Homo sapiens: one gene and its partners. The protein of the gene in region 1 purifies or fractionates together with the protein of each later gene. This does not show direct contact. Each region holds a gene or a part of one and is shown on either strand. Other genes may lie near its edges.

Region 1 (4,894 bases):
CTGGGATTACAGGCGTGAGCCACCGTGCCTGGCCACCTGTGCCATTTTTTAATCAGATGTACTCTTTTTTTTTTTTTTTTTTGAGATGGAGTCTTGCTCTGTCACCCAGACGGGAGTGCAGTGGTGCAATCTCGGCTCACTGCAACCTTTGCCTCCCAGGTTACGCGATTCTCCTGCCTCAGCTTCCTGAGTAGATGGGACTATAGGTGCACACCCGGCTAATTTTTGTATTTTTAGTAGAGGCAGGGTTTCCCCATTTAGGCCAGGCTGGTCTCGAACTCCTGACCTCAGGTGATCCACCTACCTCAGCCTCCCAAAGTGCTGGTATTACAGGCATGAGCCACTGCATCCGGCCCAGATGTACTCTTTTTAATTGAGATCTCATTCACATATAATAAACCCACCCTTTTAAAGTGTACAATTCAGTGAATTTTAGTATAGTTACAGAGTTTTGCAATCAGCACCACTCAAATTCCACAACAGTTTTATCACCCCAAAAAGAAACCCTATATTGGCTGGGTGTGGTGGCTCATGCCTGTAATCTCAGCAGTTTGGGATGCTGAGGCAGGCAGATCACTTGAGGTCAGGAATTCGAGACCAGCCTGGCCAACATGGTGAAATGCTGTCTCTACTAAAAGTACAAAAATTAGTTGGGCATGTTGGCAGGCTGAGTAATCTCAGCTACTTGGGAGGCTGAGGCAGGAGAATCACTTGAACCCAGGAGGTGGAGGTTGCAGTGGGCCAAGATTGCGCCACTGCACTCCAGCCTGGGCAACAGAGTGAGACCCTGTCTCAAAAAAAAAAAAAAAAAAAAAAAAAATGAAACCCTTTACGAATTAGCAGTTATTTCCCATTCTCAGCTCTGTCCAACCATTGACAACCACTAATCTACTTTCTGTCCGAATGGATTTGCCTAGTTTGAACATTTCATATCAATCTTTTGTGTCTGGCTTCTTCATTTTGCATAATGTTTTCAAGGTTCATCCATATTTTAGCATAAGTCAATACATATTCCTTTTTGTGGTGGAATAATATTCTGCTATATGGATATACCACATTTTGTTTATCCATTTATCAAGAGATAGACATTTGGTCATTTCCAAATGTCTATATAGTCATTTCCACTCATTGGCTGTTACGAATAATGCTGGTATAAATATTTGTGTAATATTCTGTCTTTTTAAAAGAGGCTGTATTAATCTATTACATGTATGATTAAATTTTAAAAACACAGCTTTGTAAAAACTAAATGTCGGTCTGGCTGTGGTGGCACATGCCTGCAGTCCCAGCTACTTGGGAGGCTGAGGCAGGCAAGTCGTGTGAACCCGGGAGGCGGAGGTTGCAGTGAGCCAAGATCATGCCACTGCACTCCAGCCTGGGCGACAGAGCCAAAAAAAACCAAAAAACAAACAAAAAAAACTAAATGTCAAATTTATGTATGGGAACACACACACACACACACACACACACACACACACACACACACACACACACATATATATAAATTTTTTACCTGAGAAGTTAGGTGTCTTTGTTTCAATCACAGACTCTTTGTTAAGTGTGCATTTAAATCACTTATCGTTATGAGTTAACTAAGCCAAATGTGTATTACAGTAACATTTTCCTAATCCTGGAGCAATGGAATGGTGTTGGCTAAGAGACGCCAGTACCAGGAAGCAAGAGAAATTCAGCAAATATTGAGGTTGAATGTCAGTACCATTTGGAAAATAAGCAAGGCCCACAGGTCTAAGAAGGGTGACCTAGTCTCTCAGAGGCCGTCAAAGGAGTGCAGGAAGGCATGAGGCCCCAGGAATCTGGATCAGCACAGGCTGGGAAATGCAGGCTTGTTGGGAGAAATAATGAAGAAAATCCTGACCTGTAAGGCCGGGTGTGGTGGCTCACACCTGTAATCCTAGCAGTTTGGGAGGCTGAGGCGGGCAGATCACCTGAGGTTGGGAGTTCCAGACCAGCCTGACCAACATGGAGAAACCCCATCTCGGCCAGGCACAGTGGCTCATGCCTGTAATCCCAGCACTTTGGGAGGCCAAGGTGAAACCGCGTCTCTACTAAAAATACAAAAATTAGCCAGGCATGGTGGTGTGTGCCTGTAATTCCAGCTACTCAGGAGGCAGAGACAAGAGAATTGCTTGAACCCGGGAGTCGGAGGTTGCAGTGAGCTGAGATCGTGCCACTACACTCCAGCCTGGGCGACAGAGCAAGACTTCATCTCAAAAAAAAAAAAAAAAGAAACCATCCCAACTAAAAATACAAAATTAGCCGCACGTGGTGGTGCATGTGTGTAATCCCAGCTACTCGGGAAGTCTGAGGCAGGAGAATCGCTTGACCCAGGAGGCGGAGGCTCTGGTGTGCCAAGATCGCGCCATTGCACTCCAGCCTGGGCAACAAGAGCGAAACTCTGTCTTAAAAAAAAAAAAAAAAAAAAAAGCTGGGTGCGGTGGCTCACACCTGTAATCCCAGCACTTTGGGAGGCCGAGGCAGGCGGATCATGAGGTCAGGAGATCGAGACCAGCCTGGCCAGCATAGTGAAACCCCGTCCCTACTAAAAATACAAAAAATTAGCCGAGCATGGTGGTGGGCGCCTGTAATCCTTGCTACTCGGGAGGCTGAGGCAGGAGAATGGCTTGAACCTGGGAGGCGGAGGTTGCAGTGAGACGAGATTGTGCCATTGCACTCCAGCCTGGGTGACAGAGTGAGACTCTGTCTCAAAAAAAAAAAACAAAGAAAATCTTGACCTTGACCTGTAATCTTTGAGCCAACACCCAGTGGTATCTGGTTTGTGTGCTTTGTATGAATGGACAAGGGCTGCAGCACATGGTCTGCAGTTGGGAAATCAAGAGGGTCCTGATGACAGTACAGGTTGAGAGACCAAGTCTTCCCATGATGTTTCCACACAATATCAACAACAGCCATTACCTGTGATTTTTAACAAGACAGGGCTTGTAAGTAACCCAATGGCAGGCCCACGGTTATTATTATCAGTGTATCCTCCAGTCCTTATCTAAAGTAGAAATATTAACCATATTACAAAAGTTAGCTTCTCCTTGGCCACAGGCTGAGCTTTGTCCTGGGCAGGAGTCCACAGGCTCATTCGTTTTCCCACCATGTCCCCATGGAAGCATGTGAGGCATTTCAAAGCCCAGTGGGCCTGTTTGGAGGCAGGTTCTCCCACAGACATGGTTGTGCACCACTGAAAAATAGTCACATGACTTTTCTGAGCCCATAAAGTAGAAATATTGCCCCAAACAATCCCTCTGGTCCTCACCACTCCTTAAATTCAGTGACAGACTCTAGATGGATGTTACAGCTCATCTCTGCCTGCATCTCCAGCACAGCAGTGCTAACCCCAATAGCAAGTTTATTCCTTGTCCAGGATCTGTTATTACAGATTACAATTAAATCACCAGGTTTATCTTCACTGCTGGCAAGCATTCAAAACACAAACATACTCATGATCTCAGTATGTAAAAGAGATTGAAGAATTAAAATAGTTCAGGCAAGGGGGCTCATGGCTGTAATCCCCACACTTTGAGAGACAAGGCAGGAAGAGTGCTCAAAGCCAGGAGTTCAAGATGAGCTTGGGCAACATAGCAAGACTGCATCTACACACAAAAAAGTAAAAGTTAGCGGCCGGTCATGGTGGCTCACACCTGTAACCCCAGCACTTTGGGAGGCCGAGGTGGGTGAATCACAAGGTCAGGAGTTCGAGACCAGCCAGGCCAACATGGTGAAACCCCATCTCTACTGAAAATACAAAAAATTAGCTGGGCGTAGTGGCAGGTGCCTGTAATCCCAGCTACTCGGGAGGCTGAGGCAGGAGAATCACTTGAACCTAGGAGGCGAAGGTTGCAGTGAGCCGAGATCGCACCACTGCACTCCAGCCTGGGTGACAGAATTGAGACTCCATCTCAAAAATAAAAAAAAATAAATATAAATAAAAATTAGCCAGGCCTGGTGATGTGCCGTATAATCCCAGCTACTTGGGAGGCTGAGACAGGAGGATCACTTGAGCCCAAGAAGTTTTGGTTACAGTGAGCTATTACACCACTGCCTTCCAGCTTGGGCAACAGAGCAAGACCCTGTCTCAAAAAAAAAAAAAAAAAAAGAAGAAGAAAATATACTGGGAAAAGGATATGGGTCAGTGATAGAAAAAGTTCTCAGGCCAAGCTTTTATTTTATTAGTTTTTTATTTATTTATTTATTTTTGAGACAGAGTCTCTGTTGCCCAGGCTGGAGTGCAGTGGCGTGATCTTGGCTCACTGCAACCTCCGCCTCCTGGGTTCAAGTGATTCTACTGTCTCAAACTCCTAAGTAGCTGAGATTACAGGTGCCCGCCACCATGCCTGGCTAATTTTTGTATTTTTAGTAGAGATGGGGTTTCGCCATGTTGGCCAGGCTGGTCTTGAACTCCTGATCTCAGGTGATCCACCCGCCTCAGCCTCCCAAAATGCTGGGATTACAGGTGTAGGGCAAGCTTTTAGAACTATAAATTACTGGCTGGGCACAGTGGCTCATGCGTGTAATCCCAGTACTTTGGGAGGCCAAGGTGGGTGGATCACTTGAGGCCAGGAGTTCGAGACCAGCCTGGGAAACATGGCAAAACTCCATCTCTACTAAAAATACAAAAATTAGCTGGGCATGGTGATGCACACCTATAATTCCAGCTACTTGGGAGGCTGAGGCTCAATAACAGCTTGAGCCAGAGAGGTGGGAGTTGCAGTGAGCTGAGATCACGCCACTGTACTCCAGCCTGGGCGACAGAGGGAGACTGTCTTAAAATGAAAAAAAAAACGCTGTAAATTATTATATTTATTTATTTATTAGGTTTGCATTGTCTGACAATCTCTATGCATAGGTTTGCATGGATGAACGAGGG
Region 2 (4,894 bases), on another chromosome or scaffold:
AGATGGAGTCTTACTCTGTCACCCAGGGTGGAGTACAGTGGCGCGATCTTGGCTCACTGCAACTTCCACTTCTCAGGTTCAAGCGATTCTCCTGCCTCAGCCTCCTGAGGAGCTGGGACTACAGGCGTGTGCCACCACCTGCTGCTAATTTTTTGTATTTTTAGTAGACACAAGATTTCACCATGTAGACCAGGCTGGTCTCAAACTCCTGACCTCAAGTGATCTGCCCATCTCAGCCTCCCAAAGTGCTGGGATTAAAAGCATGAGCCACCTAGCCCAGCCTGGACTTTATTCGAATTGTAATGGGAAACCACTGAAGGGTCCTGATATGGTTTGGCTGTCTCCCCACCCAAAATCTCATCTTGAATTGTAGTAATCCCCATGTGTCAAGGGAGGGACCAGGTGAAGTTAACTGAACCATGGGTGTGGTTTCCCCCATACTGTTCTAGTGACAGTGAGTTCTCACAAGATCTGATGGTTTTATAAGGAGATTACCCCTTCATTCGGCTCTCATTCTCTTTCCTGCCACCATGTGAAGGAGGATGTGTTTACTTCCCCTTCTGCCATGATTTTATAAGTTACCTAAGGCCTCCCCAGCCCTGCAGAACTGTGAGTCAATTAAACCTCTTTCCTTTATTAATTACCTAGTCTCAGGTATTTCTTCATAGCAGCAGCACGAGAACAGACTAATACAGCTTACATGCTTAGGAGGTACATTTACATGCTTACAAGCATGTAAATGATGTCATCTGAACTATGCTTCAGAAAGATAACTCTGGCTGCTGTGGAGCCAGGATTTTAGTGGGGCAAGAAGACAAACAGGGAAATCAATAATGAAGCTGCTGCAATAATCCAAACACCTGGACCAGGGTGGGAGTAGAAGAGATGGCTAGAAATGGTCAGCTGCTGAGTGTATTTTGGAAGCAGAGGTGACAGGACTCGCTAATAGACTGGATGTGGGGCAAAGGAGAAGAATTCAGGATGACCCTCAAGTATATGACATGAGCAAAATGGGGACTTTCTTGTTGAGTTTTTTTTTTTTTTTTTTTTTGAGACGGAGTCTTGCTCTGTTGCCCAGGCTGGAGTGCAGTGGCACGGTCTCAGCTTACTGCAACCTCCACCTCCCAAGTTCAAGCAATCCTCCTGCCTCAGCCCCCCTAGTAGCTGGGATTACAGGCACACACCACCATGCCCGGCTAATTTTTTTTTTTTTTTTTTTTTTTTTGAGACGAAGTCTCCCGCCCAGCCTGGAGTGCAGTGGCACGATCTGCAAGCTCTGCCTCCCGGGTTCACGCCATTCTCCTGCCTCAGCCTCCTGAGTAGCTGGGACTACAGGCACCTGCCACCAAGCCCGGCTAATTTTTTTTGTATTTTTTTAGTAGAGACGGGGTTTCACTGTGTTAGCCAGAATGGTCTCCATCATCTCCTGACCTCGTGATCCACCCGCCTCAGCCTCCCAAAGTGCTGGGATTACAGGCGTAAGCCACCGCGGCCGGCCTTTTTTTTTTTGAGATGGAGTCTCACTCTGTCGCCAGGCTGGAGAGCAGTGGCCCATCTCGGCTCACTGCCACCTCTGCCTCCCAGGTTCAAGCGATTCTCCTGCCTCAGCCTTCTGAGTAGCTGGGACGACGCCACCACACCCAACTAATTTTTTTATTTTTAGTAGAGACAGAGTTTCACCATGTTGGCCAGGATGGTCTCGATCTCTTGACCTCGTGATCTGCCCACCTCGGCCTCCCAAAGTGCTGGGATTACAGGCATGAGCCACCGCGCCTGGCCTCTAATTCTTGTATTTTTAGTAGAGATGGGGTTTTGCCATGTTAGCCAGGCTGGTCTCAAACTCCTGATCTCAGGTGATTTACCCACCTTGGCCTCCCAAAGTGCTGGGATTACAGACATGAGCCACCACGCCTGGCCTAGGACACTACTTTTTTTTTTTTTTTTTTTTTTTTTTGAGACAAAGTTTGGCTCTTGTTGCCCAGGCTGGAGTGCAATGACACGATCTCGGCTCACCGAAACCTCCGCCTCCTGGGTTCAAGCAATTATCCTGCCTTAGCCTCCCGAGTAGCTGGGATTACAGGCATGCGCCACCACGCCCAGCTAATTTTGTATTTTTTTTAGTAGAGACAACAGGGTTTCTCCATGTTGGTCAGGCTGGTGTCGAACTCCCAACCTCAAGTGATCCGTCCGCCTTGGCCTCCCAAAGTGCTGGGATTACAGGTGTGAGCCACCACGCAGGCCTAGGACACCAACTTTAGCAGAGTTGCCTGGAAGACATGAAATGGCAGAAACTTCTAAAAAACAAACAAACCCCATCTATTTGGACACAGAGCAGAGATGTGCCTGTGACTTAGCATGGACCTGGCCACATCCATATCAAAAATATTCACTAGTTAGTATGTTAACATTTATATTAATGAAACAAAATTCATTTATGTCTCTTAACCTTTCTTCTACCCACCCACCCCCACCTTCCAAGAAAGATTAGTAACAAAAAAGAAACTACAATGTAACAATCATCTCCAAGACTTTTTTTTTTTTTTTTTTTTTTTTTTGAGACAGAGTCTCATCTCACTCTGTTGCCCAGGCTGGAGTACAATGGCACGATCAGAGACTAGGTTTCACCATGTTGGCCAACCTGGTCTCGAACTCCTGACCTCAGGTGATCCACCCACCTCGGCCTCCCAAATTGCTGGGATTATAGGCGTGAGCCACCTCACCCAGCCAAGACCTCATTTTTATAAACAATGAAGATTTATGCTGTTACCTTGACCTCCTGCCAGTAGGGTCCCCCGCGGGTGAACATGAAGTAACTATACATCTGATTCGTCCTCTGGAAGAAATCTGTGTCCTCCTTGATATTCACCATCCAAGGCCGACCATCCCCACGTACACGGAGATACAGAGTATTGAACTGGGACCAATCGTAAGACATCTTCCTCTCAAAAGCACCCTAAGATATTGAAAGTAAAGTTCATTGTACCTCATTCTCCATTATTAGCAAAATGTGAGTCATCACCAAGTCAGCATCATCAACAGGATGCACTAACCATTTTTCTGACTTTCTGCCCCATAAGAAGGCACATAAACCCAGTGATTATTATTTTAGCACAAAATACTGACATAGTTATATGTTTCTAAGGTAATGTTCAACACACAACTGGCCCAGGACAGTGTTTACATGGGGTAGGCACTCACCTGTGTTCAATGAATGGAAATGAATGTATTTCCTTTACCTGGTCGTATGGAGCAATGACTTTTTCTTTTCTTTTCTTTTCTTTTCTTTTTTTTTTTTTGAGACGGAGTCTTGCTCTGTCACCCAGGCTGGAGTGCAGTGGTGCAATCTCAGCTCACTGCAAGCTCTGCCTCCTGGGTTCACACCATTCTCCTGCCTCAGCCTCCCGAATAGCTGGTACTATAGGCGCCCAAAACCACACCCGGCTAATTTTTTTGTATTTTTAGTAGAGACGGGGTTTCACCGTGTTAGCCAGGATGGTCTCGATCTCCTGACCTGGTGATCCGCCCACCTTGGCCACCCAAAGTGTGGGGATTACAGGCATGAGCCACTGCGCCCGGCCTTTTTTTTTTTTTTTTTTTTTTGAGACAAAGTTTCGCTCTTGTTGCCCAGACTGGAGTGCAATGGCACGATCTCAGCTCACTGCAACCTCTGCCTCCAGAGTTCAAGCAATTCTCCTGCCTCAGCCTCCCAAGTACCTGGAATTACAGGCATGCACCACCATGTCCAGCACTCTGGGAGGCCAAGGGTGGGGTGGATCACCTGAGGTCAGGAGTTCAAGACCAGCCTGGCCAACATGGTGAAACCCTGTCTCTACTAAAAATACAAAAATTAGCTGGGCGTGGTGGTGTGCACCAGTAGTCCCAGCTACTCAGGAGGCTGAGGCAGGAGAATCGCTTGAACCTGGAGGGCGGAAGTTGCAGTGAGCCGAGATCACGCCACTGCACTCTAGCCTGGGCGACAGAGCAAGACTCCGTTTCAAAAAAAAAAAAAGAAAGCCACAGGCTAACCCTACATCCACTCTACAAAACCCCTGGTCATTACAGAGGTTGTGGTCTTTTTTAGAGGAGATGAAAATCTCTCCAAAAATCTTTCAAATGTCTAACCTCTCAGGATTCCTGAAACATAACAATGCTCGTTCCTGGCCCAAAGCAATGCGCAGAAACAAGTTAACTCCTCCTCCTCAGAAACCACTTCCCCCTTGTGCTTCCACTTCACACTTGTGCCAATAGTTACTTATCCCCAGACACAGGTGAGGTGCCAAATATAACATGCCAGGTGTTTTCATTTACAGAAACAAAAGCTATCTTCTATAGTTTATGCTACAATGAAGTTCACCCCTGTTTACTAGAAAACGATGGCTCCTGGGCCTCACCTACCCTTGGAATCCTGGATATCATTGCACAGTACCCACTTCGGGTAGACTCCCCGTCCTGAGGCGCCTCAGAGCTCAGAGTTCCATATAGCAGTGCACTTTGGTTATTCTTGCCCATTTTCAAAAACACTTCACTTCTGCCTCCAATCGTCTTATCAGAAGTCACTGTCCACTTATCCAAATCTTCTTTCCCCCGGAATTGCCAGACAACCTTGGCTTGTTCCAGCAAGACCTCATGCAGAGGGTGGCCTTCCGGTCCTCTCCAATGATCCACAATTTCATCCTTCAAAAGCCTAAAATGGTATATTGCTTCATCTCTAATTGCTTTATCGAAACTAACATCAGGCTTCTCCTCAGAAGAAGTTATATCCAAAGCAACTTCTTTCTGGTGATCTCCTTGCAAATCCCCTTCAGTCTTCCTCTGTGAGGAGGCTTTGCCAGGAGAAGCCACTGGTTTCTGAAGACTACTGGAATACTCTGCAAAGCGAATACCCAAAAATGGA
Region 3 (4,894 bases), on another chromosome or scaffold:
AAATACACACAATGGAATATTATTCAGCCATAAAAAATAATGAAGTCTTGTCATTTGCAAAGACATGGATGGAACTGAAGACATCATGTTAAGTGAAATAAGCCAAGCACGGAAAGACAAATATTGCATGTTCTCACTCATCGTGGGAGCTAAAATTAAGAAAATAAAAATAAAAAATGGAACTCATGGAGATAGTAGAATGATGGTTACCAGAGGCTAAAAAAAGGTAGAGAGTGGGGGTGATAAAGTGAAGATGGTTAATGGGTGCAAAAATATAGCTAAATAAAATAAATAAGATCTAGTGTTTGGTAGCACAATAAGGTGATACAGTTAATAACTTATTGTATATTGTAAAAATAACTAAAAGAGTGAAATTGGAATGTTCCCAACACAAAGAAATGACAAAGGCTTGAGGTGATGGATACCACTATTACTCTGATGTGATCATTCACATTGAATGCCTGTATCAAAACACCACATGTATCCCGTAAATATATATAGTCATTATGTTCCCATAATAATTAAAAATAAAACTTTTTAAAAAGTATAGACTGTGCTCCTTTTTGTACTTTATATATCATAGAGTATATTCTCTCTCTCTCTTTTCTTTTTTTGTTTTTTTGAGACGGAGTTGCACTCTTATTCCCCAGGCTGGAGTGCAATAGTGTGATCTCAGCTCACTGCAACCTCTGCCTTGGGTTCAAGTGATTCTCTTGCCTCAGCCTCCTGAGTAGCTGGGATTACAGGCGCATGCCACCATGCCCGGCTAATTCTGTATTTTTAAGTAGAGACGAGGCTTCTCCATGTTGGTCAGGGTGGTCTCGAACTCCTGACCACAGGTGATCTGCCCACCTCAAGCCTCCAAAAGTGCTGGGATTACAGGTATGAGCCACCATGCCCGGCAAGTATGTTCTCTTTTGTATCTGACTACTTTCACTTGGCATTACGTTTGAGATTCATTCACGCCTCTGCATGTGGTATATGGCTTACTTATTGGTGAACAGTATTCCATTGTGTAAATATAACGTAATGTATTCACCCATTCAAAGTTTGATGGACATTTTGATTGTTTCTGCACTCTCTCTCTCTTTCTCTCTCTCCTGGAACTCCCTGCATATCAATTCATAGAGATCTTCATTGTTTAGAGCTGCACTGCACTCAACTGTGTGGCTATACCAAAATTAAGTGTGTGTATATATACACACACACACATACATATATACACACACACACATATATACATACACACACACACACACACACACATATTTTTTTGAGATAGAGTTTCACTCTTGTTGCCCAGGCTGGAGTGCAATGGCGCGATCTTGGCTCACTGCAACCTCCGCTCACTGCAACCTCCGCCTCCCGGGTTCAAGCGATTCTCCTGCCTCAGCCTCCCGAGTAGCTGGGATTACAGGCATGCACTACCACGCCTGGCTAATTTTTTGTATTTTTAGTAGAGACGGGGTTTCTCCATGTTGGTCAGGCTGGTCTCAAACTCCCGACCTCAGGTGATCCGCCTGCCTCGGCCTCCCAAAGTGCTGGGATTACAGGCGTGAAATTAAGTATATTTTTAAAGTCTATTTCAGTGTATGTGTTAAAATCATAATTCATATTTCCTTCTCTATATGAGTTCAAATGCATTAACATAAGATCTGCTTATTTAAGAAGTAGTTCATTACAAGACTGGTGTTCTGGCATAGAAGCAAAAAAATTCCATAATAATCATAATAAGTATCAGGGCAAGATAGGAAACAATTCATCCTTAATCTAAAAGCAAATACATTGAGTATTCATACCTGTCTTCATTTCGAAACACAGCCCAAACAACAGCTACTGCTATGCACAGTCCAGAGAGAAAAATAAGTCTCACTTCCATGTTTTTGCCACGACATGCAATCCTAAAAAACAGATTAAAATAGTTAACACTGCAGATGAAGTACAATGTTCACTTGATATAAGAAGTAGCAAATATTAACCACAGTCATAAGAAGTGACTGAAATATCAATTTTGAAAGTCTTGATTTTAAGTAAAACAAATGAGACGTAATAAAATGTTTATCAGTCCAATATAATTTTCTGTGATGATGAATAATGTACTATATCTGTGCTGTCCAATATAGTAGCTACTAGTCATATGTGGCTATTGAGCACTTGAAATGTGGCTAATAAGAATGAAAAACTCAATTTTTAATTTTATTTAATTTTACTTAAATTTAAATTTAAACACCTGTAGGTCCAATGTATATTGGACTATATAGGTTTCAAATAATACTCCTACTTTTGTATTGTTTCAAATTATAAACACCAACATTATAAGATTTCCTGTAAGAGATACGTACGTGCATTGTCCATATGGTATCTTATGAATTAGTGCAGCAAGACAGTTGTACAGACTCATTGCTGATGCTATGCAGAAAATTGCTATCATAACATAAACTGAAAAAAACAAAACACTAAATTACATGAGAACAGAAGGAAAGGTGATAAGAAAATATTTATACAAGCAATATTAATTCTTTACTTTCTTTATTGAATCATACTTCCAATGAAGTGACTATACGATGACCTGAATTACTTACTAAGCTGAAATTTAGATCGTGAGGTTTTTTGTTTTTTTTTCTGAGAGTCTCACTCTGTCGCCCAGTCGCCCAGGCTGGAATGCAGTGGTGTAATCTCGGCTCTCACTGCAATCTTTACCTCCTGGGCTCAAGTGATTCTCATGCCTTAGCCTCCTGAATAGCTGGGATTACAGGCATGCGCCACCATACCCAGCCAATTTTTGTAGTTTTAGTAGACGGGGTTTTGTCATGTTGGCCAGGCTGGTCTCAAAGTCCCGACCTCAGGTGATATGCCTGCCTTGGCCTCCAAAAGTGCTGGGATTACAGCAGTGAGCCACTGCACCCAGCTGTCTTCTTTTTAAATAGCGATGAATTTAAGGAAATCTCTTACCAAAAACTAAAATATGCTTTCAGGTAAAGTAGAGGGCTCTCTTTTTTCTATCAATGACTACTATAAACTAAGAGTTGATAACAGAAATTAATCTGAAGGAGTATTAAATTAATAAAATCACCTGTTTGATGCCAACATAATACAAATATCATTTTAGTACTCGCTCTCTCAACAACAGTTTAAAATGAGTGATATTAACAAAATGAGTTTTTTTTTTGAGATGGAGTCTCACTGTGTCACCCAGGCTGGAGTGCAATGGGGCAATCTTGGCTCACCGCAACCTCCGCCTCCCAGGCTTAAGCGACTCTCCTGCCTCAGCCCCTTGAGGAGCTGGAACTACGGGCACGCACCACCATGCCCAGCTAATTTTTGTATTTTTAGTAGAGACAGGGTTTCACTATGTTGGCCAGGCTGCTCTTGAACCCCTGACCTCAAGTGATCCACTTACTTTGGCCTCCCAAAGTGCTGGGATTACAGGCGAGAGCCACCGCATCTGGCCAGAATGACTTAATTTTAATTAAAAAATACATGTCATAAGCTGGGTACAGTGGCTCACACCTGTAATCCCAACACTATAGGAGGCCGAGGCAGGTGGATCTCCTGAGGTCAAGACTTTGAGATCAGCCTGGCCAACATGGTGAAACCCTGTTTCTACTAAAAATACAAAAATTAGCTGGGGGTGGTGCCAGATGCCTGTAATCCCAACTACTTGGGAAGCTGAGGCAAGAGAATCGCTCCATCTCAAATAAATAAATAAATACAAATAATAAAAGTACAAATATTAGCTGGGCATGGTGGGATGTGCCTGTAGTCCCAGCTACTTGGGAGGCTGAGGCAGGAGAATCGCTTGAATGCGAGAGGCAGAGGTTGCAGTGAACCCAGATTGTGCCACTGCACTCCAGCCTGGGTGACAGAGCAGAGCAGAGCAAGACTGTCTCAAAAAAAAAGATATCATAGGTCTAGTTTTTAAACTGCTGTCACAGGACAAGAGAAACTGAACAAAAACTGAATGAGGCTGGGTGCGGTAACTCACGCCTGTAATCCTAGCACTTTGGGAGGCCAAGGCAGGTGGATCACTTGAGGTCAGGAGTTCGAGACCAGCCTGGTCAACATAGTGAAATCCCGTCTGTACTAACAATACAAAAATTAGTCGGGCACAGTGGCGCACACCTGTAATCCCAGCTACTCAGGAGACTGAGGCAGGAGACTCACTTGAACCTGGGAGGTGGAGGTTGCAGTGAGCCAAGACTGCGCCACTGCACTCCAGCCTGGGCGACAGAGCAAGACTCTGTTTCCAAAAAAAAAAAAAAAGCTGAATGAAACAAATCCTAGGCCCTAGTTTTCTAGTCCAGAAATTTATGCTAATGCTATACACATAAGCATGGTAGCCTTTGGTGGTTCTTAAAAGGGCTTTTTGCTAGTTCTTATCAGGTACACTCCTTTTACCCTGGTCTCCCTTCTCTTTGTGCTGTATACTGTCCAGGGATGGCAAATTTCCATTCTATTAAGCCATTAATAAGACTGTTCAGGAGATGGACAAGCCATTATAGTTCCTGCTCCCACTTTCTTCAAGGAAAAAAAGAACTAGTTACTTTCTAGACCACAGGGAAGTACCTGTGTGTCTTCAGATATATGATCCTAACTGTTTATATAAGTAACATAAAATTCAAGCAATAAAACATCTTGATTTGCAAATTGACAAAAGATAAACTACACTTGGGAGTAAGTAGAGGCAATACATCAGTAATTTGAATAATCTTCTATTTCATGTAACTAAATATAGCCACCAAGAACTCCTTAATCCACTGCTTAGATACTGAGCTATATCATTCATCTACAGAGAGGAAAACTTAGGGACCATGGCAATTATTTCAAGTCATCCATGAAGAAGTGTTCTTATCTGAAAACATAACGTACTTTTTTTTTTTTTTTTTTTTTTTTT
Region 4 (4,894 bases), on another chromosome or scaffold:
AGTAGCTGGGACTACAGGCGCCTGCCACCACGCCCAGCTAATTTTTTGGATTTTTAGTAGAGACGGGGTTTCACTGTGTTAGTCAGGATGGTCTCGATCTCCTGACCTCGTGATCCGCCCGCCTTGGCCTCCCAAGTGCTGGGATTACAGGCATGAGCCACCGCGCCCGGCGTAGCCACCTTAAGTCTTGAGATTACAGGCATGAGCCACTGTACCCAGCCCCTTCTTTCTTTTTCTTTTTTTCTTGAGACAGAGTTTCACTCGTCGCCCAGGCTGGAATGCAATGGTGTCATCTCAGCTCACTGCAACCTCTGCCTTGTGGGTTCAAGCGATTCTCCTGCCTCAGCCTCCCAAGTAGCTAGGATTACAGGCGCCTGCCACCATGCCCAGCTAATTTTTATGTTTTGTTTGTTTGTTTTTCCTGAGATGGAGTCTCGCTCTGTTGCCAGGCTGGAGTGCAGTCACACGATCTCAGCTCACTATAACCTCTGACTCCCTGGTTCAAGCAATTCTTCTGCCTCAGCCTCCCAAGTAGCTGGGATTACAGGCACATGCCACCATGCCCAGTTAACTTTTGTATTTTTAGTAGAGACAGGGTTTCACCATGTTGGCCAGGCTGGTCTTGAACTCCTGACCTTGTGATCCGCCCACCTCGGCCTCCCAAAGTGCTGGGATTACAGATGTGAGCCACCATGCCCGGCCTAATTTTTGTGTTTTTAGTAGAGACGGGGTTTCACCATGTTGGCCAGGATGGTCTCGAATTCCTGACCTAAGGTGATCCACCCACCGTGGCCTCCCAAAGTGCTGGGACCCTTTAAGAGATGGAGTCTAGCTATGTTGCCCAGGCGGGAGTGCAGTGGCTATTCACAGGCATGAGCCAACTGGTCAGCACAGGAGTTTTGACCTGCTGTTTCCAACCTGGGTCAGTTCACACTTCCTTAGGCAACCTGGTGGTCCCCCAAGTCCCAGGAGGTCACAATATTAAGCAAAACTTAGTGCAGGACACTCCATCAGCATAGTGCACAACAGCCCAGAACTCCTGGGCTCAAGTGATCCTCCCACCTCAGCCTCCAGAGTAGCCAAATTCTGGTTCTAGATGACACAGTAACAAATTTCTTATTTTAAATTGAATTTTTAAATTAGAAGGGTTACATATAAGGCATCTTAAAAATATACAGCTAGTTATCAAGGTTGTACTGTGCTTTGATTGCACCACCGCATTGCAGCCTGGGCAACATAGTGAGACTCCATCTCTCTATGAAAAAATAAAAAAATAAGCGGGGCGTGGTGGTGTATACCTGTAGTCCCAGCTACTCAGGAGGCTGAAGCAGGAGGACTGCTTAAGCCCAGGAATCCCAGGCTGCAGTGAGCTATGATTGTGTCACTGCACTCCAACCTGAACGAGAGAGTAAAACCTTATCTCTAAAAAATAAATGAATGTGTGTGTGTTTATCTACACACACACACACACACACACAAAACGCTAACAAGTAAGAGCCAATATTAGTCCAGGCTCGGTGGCTCACACCTGTAATCCTAGCACTTTGGGAGGCTGAGGCGGGCAGATCACCTGAGGTCAGGAGTTTGAGACCAGCCTGGGCAACCTGCTGAAACCTCATGTCTACAAAAAAATACAAAAATTAGCCAGGCATGGTGGTGAATGTATGTAGTCCCAGCTACTCAGGAGGCTGAAGTAGGCAGATCAATTGAGACTGGCGGGTCGAGGTTGCAGTGAGCCAAGATCACGCCACTACACTCCAGCATGGGCAACAGAGCGAGACCCTATCTCAAAAGAAAGAGACAATATTTACCAAATATTCTTCCACTGTAGACACAGTTGAGCACTTTACAAATGTGAGGCCCTAGGTGGGGGGTACTCTTACTGCACTCATTTTACAGATGAGAAAAACCAAGGCTCAGGAAGATGAAGTGGGATGCACAGTGTTACACAGCTGCAAAGCATCAGAGCTGAGAATGGAGTCAGTGCCCTCAGTCCCCCTACTCTGCGGTCCCCACAGCCATCCCATATCGTTCTTTGATAAGGCAATGTTAAAAAAAAAAAAAGGCATTCATTTACAGTAAAATTTCAGGTTGGGCGCAGTGGCTCGTGCCTGTAATCCCAGCACTTTTGAGAGGCGGGTGGATCACTTGAGGTCAGGAGTTTGAGACCAGCCTGGCCAACATGGTGAAACCCCATCTCTACCAAAAATGCAAAAATTAGCCAGGTGTGGTGCCGCACACCTGTAATCCCAGCTACTCAGGAGGCTGAGGCAGGAAAATCACTTGAACCCGGGAGGCAGAGGTTGCAATGAGCTGAGATCACGCCACTGCACTCCAGCCTGGGTGACAGAGGGAGACTCCATCTCAAAAACAAAAAACAACTGAAATTTCAGTCAATTAATAATATAGGTGGTGTAGTATTGTACCACTTTGGGGTAAAAATCAGAAAGGAAGCTCTAAAATGCCTAACGAGGGGGAAACACTGCAAAGGAGGTAATGTAAATGAAATGCATAGTGCGGGGCCGGGCACAGAGTAAGTGCTCAATATGGGAACTATTAATATTCCCACCATCATCGTTATTGCTATCTATGGCTGTCAATCTGCTTTCGCCATCTGGTCACTATGGGTATAGGAAAGAAATTCAGTTTTCTGCCCCATCTTCACAAGTAGATGCAGGAGGAGCTGCTCACAGTCACCACACAAATCCACCGAGCTCATACATCCTTATTTTCAAAGTCAATCCCCTCACCCACGTAGGCACTAGCATCTCTTAAATTAGGGTCCAGGCACAGTGGCTCACACTTGTAATCCTAGCACTTTGGGAGGCCAAAGTGGAAGGACTGAGGGCCCAGAGGTTCAAGACCAGTCTGGGCAACACAACAAGACCATATACTTAAAAAAAAAAAAAATTAGCGGCCGGGTGCGGTGGCTTATGCCTGTAATCCCAGCACTCTGGGAGGCCGAGGCGGGTGAATCACCTGAGGTCAGGAGTTTGAGACCAGCCTCGCCAACATGGCAAAACCGCGTCTCTACTAAAATTACAAAAATTAGCTGGGCGTGGTGATGTGCACTTGTAATCACAGCTACTCGGCAGGCTGAGGCAGGAGAATCACTTGAACCCAGGAGGCAGAGGTTGCAGTGAGCCAAGACCACGCCACTGCACTCCAGCTTTGGCGACAAGAGCAAAATTCCATCTAAAAAAAAAAAAATTAGCTGGGCATGGTGGCTCAAATCAGTGATCCCAGCTACTCAGGGGGCTGAGGTGGGAGGCTCATTTGAGCCCAGGAGTTTGAGGCTGCAGTGAGCCCTGATTCCACCACTGTACTCCAGCCTGGGTGATAGAGCAAGACCTTGTTTCAAAAAAATAAATAAATTATGGACTTTTGGCCAGGCGCGGTGGCTCACGCCTGTAATCCCAGCACTTTGGGAGGCTGACGCAGGTGGATCACTTGAGCCCAGAGTTCAAGACCAGCCTGCCCAACATGGTGAAACCCCGTCTCTACAAAAAAAATACAAAAACTAGCCGGGTGTGGTAGTATGTGCCTGTAGTCCTGGGTACTTGGGAGGATGAGGCGGGAGGATTGCTTGAACCTGGGAGGTCAAGACTACAGTGAGCTGTAATCACACTACTGCACTCCAGCCTTGGTGACAGAGACACTGTCTCAAAAAACAAACACATAAACATACATACATACATAAACTAAGGACTTTTAATGGGACCTCGGCACTGATAGGCCAGCCCAGACTCACCAGAACTGGCTTCACAGAGTGGATTCTGAAGGAGTTGGGAGCAAATCCCAAGCTTACCTCCCTCTACCCAAAAGACTGCCTGGCTGGTGCTTACCTGAGAGATGGAGGTTCCTGTGAGGGCGGCCCCGCAGGTGCCTCCCCAGGCCCTACAGAGGCCTCGGGCCAGTAGGGTGGCCTGGACCCAGCTCATGCCTCTGCTTGTCAGACAATCACCTGGCCCAAAAGAAGATTCAGCATTAGCCTGGCACCTTACAGATGCTAACAGACGCAAGGGCCCCGCAGGGTCGAGGGCACACTCCAGATTATGTGGCTCACTCACCAGCCCCAATGTTTACCTTACCCAAGAAACAGGCTGATGACTCAAAGACTTTGTTCTTGGGACAGCACCCTAATCCTGCTGCCCCAGGGGCGTGATCATAGCTCAATGCAGCCTCCAACTTCTGGGCCCAAGTGATCCTCCAGCCCCAGAGCGTCGAGAAGCTGGGACTACAGACGCGTGCCACCATGCCCAGCTAATTTGAAAATAGTTTGCAGAGACCCAGGGTCTTGCTGTGTTGCCCAGGCTGGTCTCGAACTGTTGGCTTCAAGTGATCCTCCCATCTCTGTCTCCAAAAGTGCTGGGATCATGGGTGTGAGCCAGCACTCCTAGCCACTACAATCTAATTTTACAAAATCTGTGTCACTCCAACAAGAATCCCTGTACCTGGCCAGGCGCGGTGGCTCACGCCTGTAATCACAACATTCTGGGAGGCTGAGGCGGGCGGATCACTCGAAGTTGGGAGTTCGAGACCAGCCTGACCAACATGGAGAAACCCCATCGCTACTAAAAATACAAAAAATTAGCCGAGCATGGTGGCGCACGCCTGTAATTCCAGCTACTGGGAAGGCTGACGTAGGAGAATTGCTTGAACCCAGGAGGCAGAGGTTGCAGTGAGCCAAGATGATGCCATTACACCTCAGCCTGGGGAACAACAGCAAAACTCCATCTCCAGAAAAAAAAAAAAAGAAGAAAAAAAAAAAAGAAAGAAACCCTGTACCCATTAGCACTCAATTTCCCTTCACTCCCAACCCCAAGAAACCACTCATCCACTGTCTCTATAGATCTCCCTATGCCGGCCATTTCATACAAATGGAATCTGGAAT

Evidence for each region. The genes of interacting proteins can lie anywhere in the genome.
Region 2: the proteins of MARVELD2 (region 1) and NDUFAF1 purify together in Homo sapiens (affinity purification with mass spectrometry; 2 studies listed by BioGRID and IntAct, with this or other methods). This does not show direct contact.
Region 3: the proteins of MARVELD2 (region 1) and SPPL2A fractionate together in Homo sapiens (co-fractionation; one large-scale study listed by BioGRID). This does not show direct contact.
Region 4: the proteins of MARVELD2 (region 1) and ECSIT purify together in Homo sapiens (affinity purification with mass spectrometry; 2 studies listed by BioGRID and IntAct, with this or other methods). This does not show direct contact.

The regions. Positions count from the first base shown.
Region 1 is NC_000005.10:69,434,959-69,439,852, forward strand, and holds part of MARVELD2 (MARVEL domain-containing protein 2), read left to right. Parts: intron 1-4,894. UniProt on the Homo sapiens protein: Plays a role in the formation of tricellular tight junctions and of epithelial barriers.
Region 2 is NC_000015.10:41,392,092-41,396,985, forward strand, and holds part of NDUFAF1 (complex I intermediate-associated protein 30, mitochondrial precursor), read right to left. Parts: coding exon 4,396-4,894; intron 2,954-4,395; coding exon 2,768-2,953; intron 2,268-2,767; exon of another isoform or gene 2,014-2,267; intron 1-2,013. UniProt on the Homo sapiens protein: As part of the MCIA complex, involved in the assembly of the mitochondrial complex I.
Region 3 is NC_000015.10:50,734,302-50,739,195, forward strand, and holds part of SPPL2A (signal peptide peptidase-like 2A isoform 1 precursor), read right to left. Parts: intron 2,440-4,894; coding exon 2,343-2,439; intron 1,902-2,342; coding exon 1,800-1,901; intron 1-1,799. UniProt on the Homo sapiens protein: Intramembrane-cleaving aspartic protease (I-CLiP) that cleaves type II membrane signal peptides in the hydrophobic plane of the membrane. Functions in FASLG, ITM2B and TNF processing.
Region 4 is NC_000019.10:11,515,230-11,520,123, forward strand, and holds part of ECSIT (evolutionarily conserved signaling intermediate in Toll pathway, mitochondrial isoform 1 precursor), read right to left. Parts: intron 3,965-4,894; 5' UTR 3,942-3,964; coding exon 3,846-3,941; intron 1-3,845.